Linked DNA regions of Homo sapiens: region 1 is linked to region 2. Evidence: fine-mapped QTL for protein levels in blood plasma. A gene starts in region 2. The other region holds a variant in brackets. All regions are shown on one strand. Distances are from middle to middle. Region 1 overlaps CD274 (CD274 molecule). Region 2 holds the start of CD274 (CD274 molecule).

The links. PIP is the posterior inclusion probability: the model's chance that the variant is causal. Protein levels are from antibody-based Olink assays in UK Biobank. Linkage for the fine-mapping came from a reference panel and not from the study's own genotypes, which makes the PIPs less certain.
Region 1: its variant is fine-mapped to the plasma level of the CD274 protein (UK Biobank, PIP above 0.99).

The regions. Positions count from the first base shown.
Region 1 is chr9:5,463,722-5,466,221 of GRCh38, forward strand. CD274 (CD274 molecule) reads left to right here. Exons shown (of 7, transcript NM_014143.4): 5 at 1,778-1,885. The region is part of intron 2 of INCR1 (interferon stimulated noncoding RNA 1); the gene reads right to left. Among named protein-coding and RNA genes, the nearest start is that of CD274, 14 kb to the left of the region's middle. The variant C/A (reference allele first, on the strand shown) is at 1,409.
Region 2 is chr9:5,449,310-5,452,287 of GRCh38, forward strand. It overlaps CD274 (CD274 molecule), which reads left to right and starts at 1,233. Exons shown (of 7, transcript NM_014143.4): 1 at 1,233-1,287. RefSeq lists enhancers at 1,010-1,059, 1,350-1,509.

The DNA.
Region 1 (2,500 bases), 14 kb after region 2:
AATTACTAGACTTCTGTGTGCTTCACTTTCCCTGTAGGATTATAATCTACTGAGCAAGCTTATTGTAAGGGTCAGATTAGCAACAGTGTATGAAAATGATTTGAGACCATTGCCTGCACAAATTCAACTATTTTTTTTTATCTCACTACTCTACAGAAGTAGGTAGGGTGGGAGACAGAGTCTGATGAGAGGCTCAGAATGTGAAAGAAAGTGAGGCGAGTGAGCATGATATTTAATATAAACACAAAGATATTCTGAGAAGAGCTGCTCACTGCCCCCTCCCCCAATACATGTTGATAGGAAAATGCCACGTACTTCAGCAAAAACAACTGAAAAATTAGATAGAAAAGTCAATCAATAGGAAAAGATAATCCAGGACGGTGTTGTGAACAGAAAGAGGGGGAAAAAACTTTAGAAAATGATGGGGATGCTCTTACTGGGGTACGAGTCCTCAGGTATTGAACTGGCTTTCAGTAAAAGCTAGATTAGTGGGTTCCTGCCATTTACAAGCTGTTTTATGACAACTTACTTGTTGGGTGGCCTACAGTAACTCACCTAACTGCACTGAGTCTGTTTCCTCATCTGTAAATTGGGGATTTTTTTTTAAATACCTGGCATGCCTAACTCATAAAGTTGTTCTGAAACTGAAATAAAACATACGTGAACAGGCATTGTAAACTGTAAGTTACGGAAAAAGCTGGCTGTTGTTGTGTCTTTAAAGTTTCACCTGGGTAGTCAAAGATGGATCATGGGTCTCAGTGGAGAGCTGAGCCAGGCAGGAGCTGACTAAGGGTGAGAGGTGGGAGTTAGCAGCCTCTGAACATCTGTGTACCATGGGACCCCCTTTCCTCCTGCATGGTACCCCAGACAAGGAGCCTAGTAAGAGATACTAATGGCTTGTTGTCCAGAGATGTTCAAACTGCAGAGAAAGATAAGACAACAAGCATTGGCCTCCAATCATGATGACAGATAGGAGGAGGTGGGAGCTCCTTAGCAGTGCTGGTTGGCCTTCCATGTTCTACTGTGGGCCATCTCTGCCATGTACTGTAGGCTACTAGCTTCTATATTAAAGAATGCAAGAGGGGCCAGGAGCGGAGGCTCATGCCTGTAATCTCAGCACTTTGGGAGGCCAAGGTGGGCAGATCACTTGAGGTCAGGAGTTTGTGACCAGCCTGGCCAACATGGTGAAACTCTGCCTTTACTAAAAATATAAAAATTAGCTGGGTGTGGTGGTGTGCACCTGTAATCCCAGCTACTCGGGAGACTGAGGCACAAGAATTGCTTGAACCTGGGAGGCGGAAGTTGCAGTGAGCCCAGATTGCGCCACTGCACTCCACCCTGGGCAACAGAGAAAGACTCTGCCTCAAAAAAAAAAAAAAAAAGCAAGAGGAAGTGAAATAATCAAGGC[C/A]GCCATTTAATAGTGAGCAGCCACTCCATGTGGTACTGTGCAAGCACATTATAAATATTAGCCTCACAAGAAATGTATTAGCATTTGTATTTTGTACACTGGTTAAGTATCTTGCCCAAGACCTCAAAACTGGTTAAGGGCAGCAGAATTTAGCCCCAGCACCACCTTTTCAAAGCCTGGGCTTCTCACACTTCTCCATGCTGTTCCCATTTTAACACAGGTATCTCGCCATTCCAGCCACTCAAACTTTGGCATTTAAGAAAATTATCCTAAAGCTAAACTAAACTTCAAGGATGACCATTCTCCTGACCCCTTCCCATCAAAATTTTATCTTTAGTCAGTTTGTTTTCGTTTTGTTTTGTTTTTCAGAACTACCTCTGGCACATCCTCCAAATGAAAGGACTCACTTGGTAATTCTGGGAGCCATCTTATTATGCCTTGGTGTAGCACTGACATTCATCTTCCGTTTAAGAAAAGGTAGTATTTCCTTAATTGCAGTGGTCTCCACTGGGGGTGAGGAAGGGGTGAGAATTGGATCATGGCTGCAAGGAAACCCGACTTAACCTCTGCAAGGTGGTGCAAAGGCATTCCACTGTTCAACAGCAATTATATTGAAGCTGAGTGGGATCACTGGGTGAAGATGAAGCGTAAGGGGTGAGGGGCAGGAGAATGGGTATGGATGGAGGTAGAAGATGCAGTGTCATACAGTTTTTTTCTATCATGAAAATAACCACAGACTTACAGAAGAGAAAGAGCTAAAATGCCCGTCATTTTCAGTTGCATTTTAGTCTTGCATTAGTTGCAACCAGCTGGTTTCTGGGTACCCTAAGTAATAAAAATAGTTCCTCTGTAGAACTGTAGTATGTTTACCATAGAGTATTTTGCAAAATTTTTGGTAGAGGATGTTACATAATTTGCATGTGTTCATTTCTCCATTTACCTGTGGGAACAATTAAAATCCAGGAAAATGAGTATATTCAAATAATTTCCTCCCATTTAAGATGAGTCAGAGTAAATAATTCCTCCAATACTTAGAGAAGTATACCAAGAGATCCAGTGATGGTATAGAGTTGTCTGATGTTAAATAGGGAA
Region 2 (2,978 bases):
AGAAGGAACATCTGAGCTGGGCCCAAACCCTATTGCAATTTTATTGGGGCCAAAGAGAACTCCATGCTCCTGCCAAATCAAGGCAGTGTCAGCCTCAATAATTTCCCAGATAAAAATAAAAATCTGTGATACAATCAGAATGTGAAAATTCTTATTTTGGAAGCAAATGTCATAACCAATGCAAGGGCTATCTCAATATTCATTCATTATGCAGTATTTTGAACTGCAGTTGAAATGAATAAGAAGGAAAGGCAAACAACGAAGAGTCCAATTTCTCAATTTAGAAAAAGAGAAAAAAAAGAAAAGGGAGCACACAGGCACGGTGGCTCAAGCCTGTAATATCAGCACTTTGGCGGATCACTTGAGGTCAAGGAGTTCGAGAAAAGAGAGCACCTAGAAGTTCAGCGCGGGATAATACTTAAGTAAATTATGACACCATCGTCTGTCATCTTGGGCCCATTCACTAACCCAAAGCTTTCAAAAGGGCTTTCTTAACCCTCACCTAGAATAGGCTTCCGCAGCCTTAATCCTTAGGGTGGCAGAATATCAGGGACCCTGAGCATTCTTAAAAGATGTAGCTCGGGATGGGAAGTTCTTTTAATGACAAAGCAAATGAAGTTTCATTATGTCGAGGAACTTTGAGGAAGTCACAGAATCCACGATTTAAAAATATATTTCCTATTATACACCCATACACACACACACACACCTACTTTCTAGAATAAAAACCAAAGCCATATGGGTCTGCTGCTGACTTTTTATATGTTGTAGAGTTATATCAAGTTATGTCAAGATGTTCAGTCACCTTGAAGAGGCTTTTATCAGAAAGGGGGACGCCTTTCTGATAAAGGTTAAGGGGTAACCTTAAGCTCTTACCCCTCTGAAGGTAAAATCAAGGTGCGTTCAGATGTTGGCTTGTTGTAAATTTCTTTTTTTATTAATAACATACTAAATGTGGATTTGCTTTAATCTTCGAAACTCTTCCCGGTGAAAATCTCATTTACAAGAAAACTGGACTGACATGTTTCACTTTCTGTTTCATTTCTATACACAGCTTTATTCCTAGGACACCAACACTAGATACCTAAACTGAAAGCTTCCGCCGATTTCACCGAAGGTCAGGAAAGTCCAACGCCCGGCAAACTGGATTTGCTGCCTTGGGCAGAGGTGGGCGGGACCCCGCCTCCGGGCCTGGCGCAACGCTGAGCAGCTGGCGCGTCCCGCGCGGCCCCAGTTCTGCGCAGCTTCCCGAGGCTCCGCACCAGCCGCGCTTCTGTCCGCCTGCAGGTAGGGAGCGTTGTTCCTCCGCGGGTGCCCACGGCCCAGTATCTCTGGCTAGCTCGCTGGGCACTTTAGGACGGAGGGTCTCTACACCCTTTCTTTGGGATGGAGAGAGGAGAAGGGAAAGGGAACGCGATGGTCTAGGGGGCAGTAGAGCCAATTACCTGTTGGGGTTAATAAGAACAGGCAATGCATCTGGCCTTCCTCCAGGCGCGATTCAGTTTTGCTCTAAAAATAATTTATACCTCTAAAAATAAATAAGATAGGTAGTATAGGATAGGTAGTCATTCTTATGCGACTGTGTGTTCAGAATATAGCTCTGATGCTAGGCTGGAGGTCTGGACACGGGTCCAAGTCCACCGCCAGCTGCTTGCTAGTAACATGACTTGTGTAAGTTATCCCAGCTGCAGCATCTAAGTAAGTCTCTTCCTGCGCTAAGCAGGTCCAGGATCCCTGAACGGAATTTATTTGCTCTGTCCATTCTGAGAACCCAAAGGAGTCCTAAAAGAGGAATGGAGGAGCCTAAGAATAAAAATAGTATAATAAAACATTTCTTAGACACATTGACCTTGGCCTATGTCAAAGTTCAGTCTGGGTTTGTCTTATAACACAAGGAGTAAAAGTACCATTGTTCTACCTCTTTTTTTAATACTTGAAAAAAATTTACTGTGGATGCTTTTCTATGAATTAAATAACCTTCTAAAAAATGTTTTCATTGCTGCATTCGATTAGATTGGGTAACTAAATGAAATTAATTCCTCACTGTTGGGTATAAAGGTTATTTACAGTGGTTCTGTCTTAGCCATTCACTGAACTCATTGCATATATATCTCTGGAATATTGCTGATTGTTTCCTTCAAGTAAACTTAGAAGTGTAACTACTTAGTCAAAGAGCCTGAATATTTTAAAGGCCTTTTGAAGAAAACTGAAAATGCTTTCCAGAAAGGATGTATCAGTTGACAATGACAGTCGTCAACAGTATTTAAGGAGAACTATGATACTCTGAAGAAAAACTTAGCCTTTCTCAGTAAAAGTAGGTAGGCAGAGGCCACATGACAGCAGTTAGAGTGTGGTCTTCAAGGAAGTCACAGAAATACTGTGGGGAATTGAAACCCCATGTGGAAAATGTACAAGAGTGTCTCAGTGTGACTGAGAAGGAGGTTGGGCATGGGGTTTCATGGAGTTTAATAAAGTTTGGTCACTTAGTAGAGGTTTAATAAATCAACTGTCTTAATCTTTGATCCTACTTAAGAATTTTTTTTTTGTTTTTGTAGAGATGGGGCTCTTGTTATGTTGCCCAGGCTGTTCTCGAACTCCTAGCCTCAGGCGATCCTCCCTCCTCAGGCTCCAGAAGTCCTGGGATTACTGGCGGGAGCCACCATGCAGGCCTCTTGCTCCTACTTTTGAGAAAGGAAGTTTAACCGGTTTTTTTTGTCTTTTTTTTTTTTTTTTTGAGACAGAGTCTCACTCTGTTGCCCATGCTGGAGTGCAGTGGTGCAATCTCAGCTCACTGCCTCCCGGGTTCAAGTGATTCTCCTGCCTCAGCCTCCCGAGTAGCTGGGACTACAGGCACCTGCCACCACGCCCAGCTAATTTTTGTATTTTTAGTAGAAATGGGGTTTCACCATATTGGCCAGGCTGATCTCGAACTCCTGACCTCAGGTGATCCGCCTGCCTCGGCCTCCCAAAGTGCTGGG